Linked DNA regions of Homo sapiens. The protein of the gene in region 1 purifies or fractionates together with the protein of each later gene. This does not show direct contact. Each region holds a gene or a part of one and is shown in the gene's direction. Other genes may lie near its edges. The genes, in order: THBS3, MTO1 and FDXR.

The links.
Region 2: the proteins of THBS3 (region 1) and MTO1 purify together in Homo sapiens (affinity purification with mass spectrometry; 3 studies listed by BioGRID and IntAct, with this or other methods). This does not show direct contact.
Region 3: the proteins of THBS3 (region 1) and FDXR purify together in Homo sapiens (affinity purification with mass spectrometry; 3 studies listed by BioGRID and IntAct, with this or other methods). This does not show direct contact.

Annotation. Positions count from the first base shown.
Region 1 is NC_000001.11:155,206,525-155,210,124, reverse strand, and holds the start of THBS3 (thrombospondin-3 isoform 1 precursor), read left to right. Parts: upstream 1-2,227; 5' UTR 2,228-2,248; coding exon 2,249-2,327; exon of another isoform or gene 2,328-2,904; coding exon of another isoform or gene 2,905-3,154; intron 3,155-3,310; exon of another isoform or gene 3,311-3,408; intron 3,409-3,568; exon of another isoform or gene 3,569-3,600. Other genes in the region: MTX1 (metaxin-1), read right to left, coding at 793-1,320. UniProt on the Homo sapiens protein: Adhesive glycoprotein that mediates cell-to-cell and cell-to-matrix interactions. Can bind to fibrinogen, fibronectin, laminin and type V collagen.
Region 2 is NC_000006.12:73,460,099-73,463,698, forward strand, and holds the start of MTO1 (5-taurinomethyluridine-[tRNA] synthase subunit MTO1, mitochondrial), read left to right. Parts: upstream 1-1,638; 5' UTR 1,639-1,756; coding exon 1,757-1,973; intron 1,974-3,600. UniProt on the Homo sapiens protein: Component of the GTPBP3-MTO1 complex that catalyzes the 5-taurinomethyluridine (taum(5)U) modification at the 34th wobble position (U34) of mitochondrial tRNAs (mt-tRNAs), which plays a role in mt-tRNA decoding and mitochondrial translation.
Region 3 is NC_000017.11:74,866,233-74,870,171, reverse strand, and holds part of FDXR (NADPH:adrenodoxin oxidoreductase, mitochondrial isoform 1 precursor), read left to right. Parts: intron 1-1,418; exon of another isoform or gene 1,419-1,606; coding exon of another isoform or gene 1,607-1,627; intron 1,628-3,166; coding exon of another isoform or gene 3,167-3,295; coding exon 3,296-3,388; intron 3,389-3,603; coding exon 3,604-3,726; intron 3,727-3,927; coding exon 3,928-3,939. UniProt on the Homo sapiens protein: Serves as the first electron transfer protein in all the mitochondrial P450 systems including cholesterol side chain cleavage in all steroidogenic tissues, steroid 11-beta hydroxylation in the adrenal cortex, 25-OH-vitamin D3-24 hydroxylation in the kidney, and sterol C-27 hydroxylation in the liver.

The DNA of each region.
Region 1 (3,600 bases):
AAATCCTTTCCTCTATCTCCTCTCTTGCCATCTACCTGGTGAACATCTATCCTCAGAAGCTTTTCCTAACCAGTATCCCTCTTCTTGGAAGCACTGATAATGCCCTTCTCTTTGGCAGTATCTGTGGTCTGTTCCTACTTTAACTTATATGTGAATATTTTATTATATTTATTTGCTTACCTATCTGCCTTTCTGTAAACTCGAAGGGAGGAACCAAATTTTATTCATCTTTGCCTGGCAATGTTTAATATTTGGAAGAAATCTAATAGATCCTCTTTAAAGCAAGGAGTCAATGAATAAATGAAGCAAAGGAAGTCTGATTGCTAAGCTCTTTATACAAAGCCTGGCTGTGAGTCGTTTGGTCTAACAAACAATAGCCTCAGTAAATGCTGTTAAGTGAGGAGGAAGAGGAGAAGGGGGCTGAGGAGAAGGCAGGAATTCCAAGCTAGAGTAGGTCCCTGAGACAGTCCAGCCTAGTAAACCTCCGAATGGAGAAAAAAAATGCCCAAAGAGAAAGGATCTCCGCAAGGTCACACAGCCAGTGAATGGATGAGCAAGGACTAGAACCCATCACCTGAACTCCCAACCAGGCGTCTTTTCATTGCTGCATTAAGCCTAGAAAACTACAGCATAGGGCACTGAGGCCATATCGGCCACGTACGCTCTTTGACTGCCTCAGTTTCCCCCACTGCGCCCGTGCTGAGTAGCCCTGGCAAGGTTTGGATGCTTGGCTAGTTCGGCCCCCTCCCCAGTCATCAGGGCACAGCAGAGGGCGCCGGCGCCACCCCTCACCAGCACGGCCAGGCTGTCCAGGTCCACTGACGGCAGCCCCCAGCCCCCTGACCAGCAGAACAGCTCCATGGGCGCCGCCATCTTGCCCACCCTCTGTCCCGGAAACACTTCCTTGTGTGCTTCTGCCCTCCCCTGCCTGGGCCCGCCCCCCGCCACCGCCCCTCCGATCGTTGCGGTCAGGGGGCCTGGGGAGATCCCCGGGGAGGCGAGGCTTCTTCTGGCCCGACTGGCAGCTGAACTGCGGGGGACTGGGCCGCGGGCCTCGGGGGAGGGCGGCCGCCGGCCCATCCAGAGGTGGCCCACGTAGCGGGACAGCGCTGTCGGCCCGGCGCGCCTCGGAGAGTCACGGCGCCTCGTCCAAGTGGAGCCCCGAACCCCTGAAGGCGCGGCAGGCTCTGGAGAGCGGGGTCTTGTGCGCCTGGGCCAGGTCTGGGGGCTCTTGCCAAACTGCACGTGGCCTGTACTGCTCCAGGGCCCCTTGGGGCTCGTCCCCGAGCGGGGACTGCGGGGGGGTCCCCCGAGCAGCATGTTTTCCACAGCGCGTTATGTTTGGAGCGGGCCCTGCGCCGCCTGTCGCCATGGAAACAAAACAGGGGCGGTGGCGGCGGCCGGAGCGGAGGCCGGGCTGGGGCTTGGGTGGGGGAGGGGAAGAGAGGCTCGCAGGCTGTCGCTTAGGTGACGGGAACTCAGGCGCCCCTCTGCTTCATCCGGGTCACGGCCCGTCCGCTAGTACCCACAGTGTTCCACAGTCTGGTCCTTGGCTCCTCGCCTGTACCCCTGGTCTTCTGCGCCTGTCCCTGGTGTCCCTTTCCTCTTTTTTGGTTTCTTCACTCTGACCTCACTGACCACTGCTTTAGATTCTCCCTTCAGTTCCCGTCAGACGCTTCCAGACTCCCAAGCTTTCCTACGAATGAGGGAAAATGGAGAAACAGGCACTTGTCAGGGGACCCCCCACCCTAATAAAGAGCACTTGCTCCGCCAGAACAGCAAAATTCATGCCATGTGGGCATCCCTGGGCACTATAGCAAGCTAGTTGCGGCCACTCCCTTGGCATCCTTTCCTGCCAGCTGTGGAATAATGCCCACTGTCTAGCACTGCCCCTGCCAGGGGTTCTTGCCTTCCACAATCGTGGCTTCCAGAAAACAGTGGCATTCGGTAGCGCTGTGTGCCGAGACCCCCAACAATGATGACTGCGGAGAGGGAGGCACCTGGGGGAGGATCATTAGGGAGAGGTAGAAAGCAGGGAGGCCTCCAGGATTCTTTCCCAGTGCCCCTGGTTCCCAGAGCTGATGATGCCTCCAGGGTGATTGGCAGCTCTTTGTTTCAGCCCCCCCTCACCCGCCTGCTGGCCCCCCCTCCAATTCTGTCCCTCCGCCCCCCGGCTCCTGCTCTCTCCGCCTAGCCTTTTCCCCTCCCAGCTGCCTGCCTGCCAGGGGTAGTGAGCCGGCTGAGAGGCATGGAGACGCAGGAACTTCGGGGGGCCCTGGCTCTTCTCCTCCTTTGCTTTTTCACATCTGCCAGTCAGGATCTGCAGGGTAAGCCTGTCTCCATCCTCTTAGACCGCTCTCTGCTTCTTCCCCATTTGCCCTCAGCCCAAGTAGCAGAGAACATGTGGGCAAGGGGAGAGGGGAAGAGTCCAGAAATTGAGCCAGAGGAAAACTTAAGACTGCCTAGAGTTGGTGAAATTATGGCCTGGTGGAGAGGAGTGGGCACCGGAGAGTAGTGGGGGAGCTGGAACAGGACAGGGTCAGGCATGAGGCCAGGGCAGAGGACTCAGGAACTGGATGCTCAGGCTGCCTGGCTGGGGTGGTTCCTGAGCATCTGTAGGCACCCTAGGGTCTGGGAGAGCAGCCTGAAGGTGGGCGTACTGTAGGTCCCTGGGCTTCGTCCCCCTGGGCTCCTGGCTGCCCAAGGACAGGGCGGGGGTGGGGACCAAGAAGCCTGGGCTCTCCCGGAGGTCTGGTGGTGGGATGGGCCGATGGATGTGGGAGAGGTAGCTGGAGCAGATGACACAGGCATAGATTCTTTACTGGCTGGAGGGAAAACCACAGATTGGCCAGGACACAGGAGGCAGAGGAGCTGGGTCCTACATTCCCGTGGGAGATAGCCCAGATGGTGGGAGGGTTAGAGTCCTCAGTGGGCAGCTGTTCTTATCCAGAGCGAGTGTGCTGCGCCCCTAGGATGGGAGGAGGGGAACTAGGGTGTGGAACGAGCCAAACCCAGGAGTGGAAAGAGAAGCTGCCTTCCATTTCTACGTTGTGGACACCAGGTGCCACTCCTGTGGGGGATCAGCACAGCATCTCCTTTGCGCCACCTGGTGGGGGCATCTCAAATTTGTGGGGTGCTGTTTCTGTGTTTCCAAGTGAGTCTCAAACCTGCAGGTTCCTGGAAGGTAGTAATAGGCAATAATGGGGAAAGGAAGGCACAGTGCCTCTGTCCTCTGAGAGCAACAAGGGTTGAGGTTTTTTTTTGTTTTCGTTTTGTCTTTTTGAGATGGAGTTTCACTCTTGTTGCCCAGGCTGGAGTGCAATGGCGCGATCTCGGCTCACTGCAACCTCCACCTCTCAGGTTCAAGCGAGTCTCCTGCCTCAGCCTCCTGAGTAGCTGGGATTACAGGTGCCCGCCACCACGCCCGGCTAGGTGGTTTTTTTTTCTTTTTTGTTGTTGTTTTTGTATTTTTAGTAGACACGGGGTTTCACCGTGTTGGCCAGGCTGGTCTCGAACTCCTGACCTTAGGCGATCCACCTGCCTCAACCTCCCAAGGTGTTGGGATTACAGGTGCGAGCCACCATGCCCAGCCAAGGGTTG
Region 2 (3,600 bases), on another chromosome or scaffold:
TAGCAGCATTGCAGGACCAGAAGGCAGTGACCCCCCTGGACCCAGCTTTCAATATCTTCTGTGTGTCTATTATTTCTCGACCTGCCAATCCGCCTGGGAACAAAGAAAGAGCCCCATTGCATTGTGGGCTGCTGGCCAGATCCTGCAATACCACACTTGTTTTATTCTCCAGTCAAACGTTGCCTTTCTGAGAAAGGCTGTGAATTGAGAAAGGCTGTGAATTCCAAAAGGCTGGACATTTAACCTCCAACCAACCGATTCTTCTAATTAACCAATTAGCCATCATGAATCTCTCTCTCTCTTTTTTTTTTTTTTGAGACAGAGTCTCACTCTTGTCGCCAGGCTGGAGTGCAGTGGCACGATCTCGGCTCACTGCAACCTCTGCCTACGGGTTCAAGCAATTCTCCTGCCTCAGCCGCCCAAGTAGCTGGGACTACAGGTGCATGCCACCACACCTGGCTAATTTTTTTTTTTGTATTTTAGTACAGACGGGGTTTCACCATGTTGCCCAGATTGGTCTCGAACTCCTGAGCTCAGGCAATCTGCCCCCTTCGGCCTTCCAAAGTGCTAGGATTACAGGCGTGATCCACCATGCCCAGGCACCATCATGAATCTTTCAGTCCACAAATATATTTGAACTCCTTTCGAATCTATTCTTTTTCTTTTCTTTTTCTTTTTTTTTTTTTGAGACGGAGTCTTGCTCTGTCGCCCAGGCTGGAGTGCAGTGGCACAATCTTGGTTCACTGCAACCTCGGCCTCCCAGGTTCAAGCGATTCTCCTGCCTCAGTCTCCTGAGTAGCTGGGATTACAGGTGCATGCCACCACTCCCGGCTAATTTTTTTTTTTTTTTTTTTTTTTTTTTTTTTTAGTAGCGATGGGGTTTCACCATGTTGACCAGGATGGTCTCCATCTCCTGACCTTGTGATCCACCTGCTTCGGCCTCCCAGAGTGCTGGGAATACAGGCGTGAGCCACCGCGCCCGGCCCGAATCTATTCTTATTTTCAGCCCTTAGTTTTTATAGACAAACAGAAGGTGACGGTGTATCAGATTGTCAGATCACAAAGATCTGATAAGGCAAAGTGATCAAATTCATTGATCGTAGGTGGCCACCTGGCGATAAGGACTGCAGGGCCTAAGAAAGTACAAAAGATGACCTTTAGTAGGAGCTCCCAACCCAGAACCACAGGAAATCAAAAAAAGCCCGCACGGGCGGATCACGAGGTCAGGAAATCGAGAACATCCTGGCTAATACGGTGAAACCCAGTCTCTACTAAAAATACAAAAAATTAGCCGGGCGTAGTGGCGGGCGCCTGTAGCCCCAGCTACTCGGAGGCTAAGGCAGGAGAATGGCGCGAACCCGGGAGGGGGAGCTTGCAGTGAGCCGAAATCGCGCCACTGCATTCCAGCCTGGGCAACAGAGCGAGACTCTGTCTCAAAATAAATAAATAAATAAATAAATAAATAAATAAATAAATAAATAAATAAATAAATAAATAAAAATAAAAAATAATAATAATAAAAAAAGCCCGCACGAACTAGGAAAGAAAATACACAACCGGCCCTCCGTGCGATCACCCATCTCCCTCACCAGGAAAGTAGCTCCAAACCGCCAATCAGCGGCGACGCTGGACGTAGACGTCCTACCCCGTGATATTAAAGCAAGATGGCCGCGCCCTGCAGATTGTCTCTTGTTGCGTAAGTTTTTTTGACCGTCACTCGTGTCAGCTTCAAAGTCAGATAGATTTTTCTCCCAGCATGTTCTACTTCCGAGGCTGTGGCCGTTGGGTCGCGGTTTCCTTCACCAAGCAGCAATTTCCGTTGGCACGGTTGAGCAGTGACAGCGCGGCGCCCCGGACTCCGCACTTCGACGTGATAGTCATTGGTGGAGGACATGCCGGGACTGAGGCAGCCACCGCCGCCGCTCGGTGCGGCTCTCGGACTCTGCTCCTCACTCACCGCGTGGACACGATCGGTGAGGAGCGCGGGTGCTGTGGAACTTGGCGTAGGACGCAGGCTGCTTCCTTCCCGCCTCCCCCGGTCTGAAGCGGGGGACCTCTTCCTTTCCTCAAAGCTAGTGAGAATCCTACCTTCTGTGGTTTTAGCCTCGATCAGTGTCTCGCAAGGATCAGGCGGGCCAGGCCAGAACTCTATATTAGTCTATTCTGCGAACCATAGATTATGCTGCTGCTGACAGTCGTCCGTTGTAGGAGGTTGGGGTTCGGGGTCAGTGCCTTGGGAAAGGGAGCTACCAACTACTCGCTGGTAGCTTCTTAGTTCATTGCTGCGTTTACCTTCTACTATGTTACTCCAGATAAAGGGTGAATTAACATTATTAACAATGGTTTATGGCCAGGTGCAGTGGCTCACTTCTTTAATCCCAGCACTTTGGGATGCCAAGGCAGGTGGATCACCTGAGGTCAGGAGTTTGAGACCAGCTTGGCCAACACGGCGAAACCCCGTCTCTACTAAAAATACAAAAATTAGCCGGGCATGGTGGCGGGCGCCTATAATCCCAGCTACTCGGGAGTCTGAGGCAGGAGAATCGCTTGAACCCGGGGGCAGAGGTTGCAGTGAGCCGAGATTGCGCCACTTCACTCCAGCCTGGGCAAAAGAGCAAAACTCCGTCTCAAAATAATGATAATATTAATAAAATAAAAAAATCCTTTATTAAACGGTTCTTGTGTTTTTATTTAAAAACATTTTTTTAGAGACAGGGTCTCGCCATGTTGCCCAGGCTGGAGTGCAGTGACTACTCATAGGCACGATCGTTGCACATTACAGGCTCCGCTTTCTGGACTCAAGAACTTTTCCTGCCTCTGCCTAACCAGTAGCTGGGATTGCAGGTGCTCAGTACTCTGCCCAGCCTGATCTTTGTGTTTCTGTCAAGATTTTGTGATGCCTTTTGGAAGAACCATGCTACCTTTTTTTTTTTTTTTTCTTTTGAGACAGAGTCTTGCACTGTCACACAGGCTCAAGTGCAGTGGCGCCATCTCGGCTCACTGCAAGCTCCGCCTTCCGGGTTAATGCCATTCTCCTGCCTCAGCCTCCCGAGTAGCTGGGATTACAGGCACCCACCACCACGCCCGGCTAATTTTTTTTTTCTTTGTATTTTTAGTAGAGTCGGGGTTTCACCATGTTAGCCAGGATGGTCTCGATCTCCTGACCTTGTGATCCGCCCGCCTCGGCCTCCCAAAATGCTGGGATTACAGGCATGAGCCACCGTGCCCAGCGCCATGCTACCTTTTGCATCCTATATTCCTTCTGGGTTGTCGTCCCTGGATTTTGTGTTTAGTACTGGACAGTACTTTTTTTGCTCTAATGGGTAATGGTTGGATGGCCGTTCTGTAGCATCATGATAGATACTAGCTAAAACATCAACTTGTAAATTATGTATACTTTTGTCTTTCCTCCTTCCTTTTGCTTAGGAGCGAGCAGTAATTAGAATATTTACTTGTTTTGTAAAAGTTGTGAATAAATCACTTATTTATTCCTGAAATTCTTCTTTAAAATAACCATTCAGCTCATAACTGTGAAGAAATATATACTATTAACTGCGGTTTTGTGGGTGGGGGAGAGGAGGCTATATGATTTCCTAAAAG
Region 3 (3,939 bases), on another chromosome or scaffold:
ATGGGATGGGGAGGGGCTCAGGCCAGGTACAATCCTTGTTCTGATCCTTGGGCTGATCTTTGCCCACAGGGAGCTCCAAGCTACTGGCTGTGCTCCTAAGACAGGACCACATGCAGCACGTTTGGGACAGTGGCCCTTAGCTTGAGTCAGGCACTGAGCACAGCATCTCGTAGCATCCTCATGACAACCTGCAAAGCAGGTGTCGTGCCTCTTGCTTCACAGGTAAGGATGCTAGGGCCAAGTGAGGTTGTCCAAGCTTCCACCGTGGAGCAGGGATGGCACTGGGATCTGAGCGAAGGCAGCTCCATGTGAGGCCATCCATGTTAATCCATTCAGTAATCATTTACTGGACGTAACATGTTCTGGGCGCAGGCTTTACTGGGAACATGGGGGTGAACAGGACAGACGTGGTCCCTGTGCTCGAGGACCTGACATTCGAATGTGGAGGGGACAGGTGGATAATTTACAAGGTATTTTAGGGCTCTGACGGCTATAAGCACAGAGACTGGGGTGCGGGGAGGGGGTCCATGCCCAGTCTGGAGGGAGAGATGTCCCAATTGCAGTCTGAAGGACAGTAGATGTCAGGTTGGGGGACAATAGCAGGAGTGTCCCAGGCACAGAGAACTGCGTGAACAAAGAGGAAGAGAATGGCTCTCTGGGGAAAGGGCAAGTTCTGGAAGGTGCCTGTGTGCAGTAAGGCGTGAGGAGGTGAGAGCCGAGGCTGAGAGGTAGGTAGGACCCAGATCCTGGGGGGCTTGGAAGCCATTGACCAGGCTCTGGAGGCAGGTTTCGCTGGGAGGTGTCCACAGCTGCCTCCTCTTCCCTGATCAGAGTCTCCCGGGGCATCTTATCAAAATGCACATTCCTGGGCCTAACTTGGACCTAATCAAACTCTGTGGCTGGGCCCAAGAGTCAGCAATGTTAAACACCCCGAAGGATTCTTGTGCCCACAGCTGTAGATGGTTGGCTTCACTGGAGAGTTTTCGGGCTGCTGTTTTCCTTCAGGATGCCCCCTCTGCCTGCAGCGTAGGTCCAGGCAGGGCTGGTGGCCAGATAGCAGTGGGGAGCTGCTGGGGTTGTAGTGAGGAAGAGGACTGGGAGGATGGGGGATTGATGGGATCAGGTCGGGGGTCAGGGAGGAGCCCCAGGTTCCAGCTTGGGCTCTGAGTGGATGGGGTCGAGGGAACAGGAGCAGAAGTGGGGAGCGGTTTGGGGCAAGGGGACTTGGCTTGAAACTGGATGGATTTGAGATGTCTGGGGTGGGACATCCAAGGGTCTCAGGTTTGGAGCTTGGGGAGATGTCTGGGCAGGAGAGAGAGAGTAGAAAGTCATCAGCAAGTTCAGGGGAATTTGGGGTCGCAGGAGGGAGTGGGTTAAATCCTCAGGGAGGAGGGAGGGGGGCCAATCGGAAGAACCTCAGAGAATGTCCTTGTTAGCGGGGAGCAGCTAGAGGGACAGGAGGGAGGGAAGGAAGGAAGGAGGAAACCTGGAAGATGAGGTCAGCCACGAGAGATAAGGGGTAAGAACATCCGGCAGACTTAGCGTTCCGGAGGTGGCCCTGGAGAGGACATCGTGACCCAGAGTGAAGGATCTGTCGCAGGAAAGAATGGAAGATAAGGACAGAGAGGTTGGTTGGGTGAGGTGTTGACCTCTAGGCCGAGCAGTTTGAACTTTATGCTGTGGCACTGGGCCCCAGCGAAGATTTTTGAGCAAGGCAGTGACATACAACAACAGAATAGTAATGATAGCTCTCTTCTTGATTGAACACTCAGAGTAGGTTGCACCCCGGGCTGCCTGATTACTCATTTAACCTTGAGCAGGACACCACAGGGCTCTTCTTTTGGACAGAGAAGAAACTTTCCCCAGTGCACAGAGCCAGCTAGTGCTAGAGCTGGGACTGGCATCCAAGGCTACCTGTTTGACTCCAAGCCCAGAGCGCTTTGTGGGTACAACATCGTGGGGCTTGAGGGAGGTGGTTTGGGTAGCCCCCTGTGGCTGGCCTGGGATGGAGAGAGGCAGGAGGTGGGGGAGGGTGGACTTGGGTGCAGGCAGGGGAGTGGAGGGGAAGGGGGGATTTGGGCAAAGGCGAAGAGGTGGGTGGGAGCCTTTGTTGGGGGTAGGGAGACTGATGGGCAGGGGCTTCTTTGCCTTGAGTCCCAGTGAAGCTGGAGGTGTCATAGCGGGGACCTAAGATAGGATGGGGGGCTGGGCGTGTCAGCTGTGGGACCCCTGACTGCTTTACTGCTAACCGGCCTGTGGCCCAGAGTCTCACCATCCTGACCTCCTGGTGCTTTCCAGCAGCCATGAGAGAGAGCTGTCATCCATCCTAGTGTGCAGAGGGGGAGACTGAGACTTGGGGAGGCCCTGGGACTTGCTGGGATCATGTGGCTGGTTGGTGGCAGAGCCATACCAGACTTGCCTGCTGGACCCCCGACCCTGTGCCTTTCACACGGCCTCTCAAGGTGCCCTGGGAAGGCGGTCATGCAGAACCAGTGCCTGAGACTGTCTTTCTAAGAGTGGGAGCAGGCCCATTTCCACCTCTCTTTCCCGTGAATTCCCAGCCGTGCCCCCTCCCTGTCCTGCTGCTCCCCTTTCCCCAGAGCATGGTCCTGGGCACTAGAGCTAAGGCACCTGTGAATTCAGAGGGTGGCCCTCAGGTCCTCAGACTGGCTGGGACCTGAGGGTCCCAAGTGTCGAAGGGTTGGAGGCCAGGGCTGTGGGTTGTGCTTGACCTGAGAAGATAAAGAAGCCGCCCTGATATAATTCCAGTCGGGGGAAGCCACGGCCTTGTCAGCTGGCCACATTTCTCCCCATCTCTGAGGGCCGGCCGTCGTCGTCTTTTTTTTTTTTTTTTTTTTTTTTTTTGAGACAGAGTCTTGCTCTGTCACCCAGGCTGGAGTGCAATGGCGCGATCTTCGCTCACTGCAACCTCTGCCTCCTGGGTTCAAGCGGTTCTCCTGCCTCAGCCTCCCAAGTAGCTGGGATTGCAGGTGCCTACCACCACGCTCAGCTAATCTTTGTATTTTTAGTAGAGACAGGGTTTCACCATGTTGGTCAGGCTGGTCTCGAACTCCTGACCTCAGGTTATCCACCTGCCTCAGCCTCCCAAAGTGCTGGGCTGACAGGCGCGAGCCACCCAAGGAGTGAGTGCTCTTTTTCCTTGCAGAGGGTGGAAGCCTTGTGTTCTCAGCCCAGGGTCCTGAACTCTCCTGCTCTGTCTGGGGAAGGGGAGGACCTGGGGGCGTCCCAGCCTCTCTCTCTCGGCCCCACCAGCTGCCACCCTGTTCCCCAGCAGCACCCCCAGGCCCACGTGGACATCTACGAGAAACAGCCTGTGCCCTTTGGCCTGGTGCGCTTTGGTGTGGCGCCTGATCACCCCGAGGTGAAGGTGGGTGTCTCTGGGCCTGGAGGCTGGGGTTTGGAGACTTTGGTCAAGATGAGGAGGGCAGGGAGGCTCCCTGGCTGGATGACAGGACTTCATGCCGTCTGTGCCCATGCCACCCAGCTTCCCTCCTGGGGACACAGAGTGGTGAGGGTGGTGCAGACTTGGTCCCTGGAGCTGCCTTACCCTCTAACCCCTCCCATTCCCGGGGGACCTGGCAGAATGTCATCAACACATTTACCCAGACGGCCCATTCTGGCCGCTGTGCCTTCTGGGGCAACGTGGAGGTGGGCAGGGACGTGACGGTGCCGGAGCTGCAGGAGGCCTACCACGCTGTGGTGCTGGTGAGTGCAGCTAGGCCCTGGCTTGGGGAGGCAGGGGCTGCAGAAGGAGGCCGGTGGCTCGGGGTGGAAGGCAGCAGGGGTGAGGCCAGGATGCAAGCTGCTGAGAAGCTGGAAGGAGGCCGCTGGGAGCCTGGGGGGCTGCCCGGCCTATCAGTGCTGGTGCTGAAGGCTGTGGGTCTCGGGCCTGCCATCTTTCATCAGAGCTACGGGGCA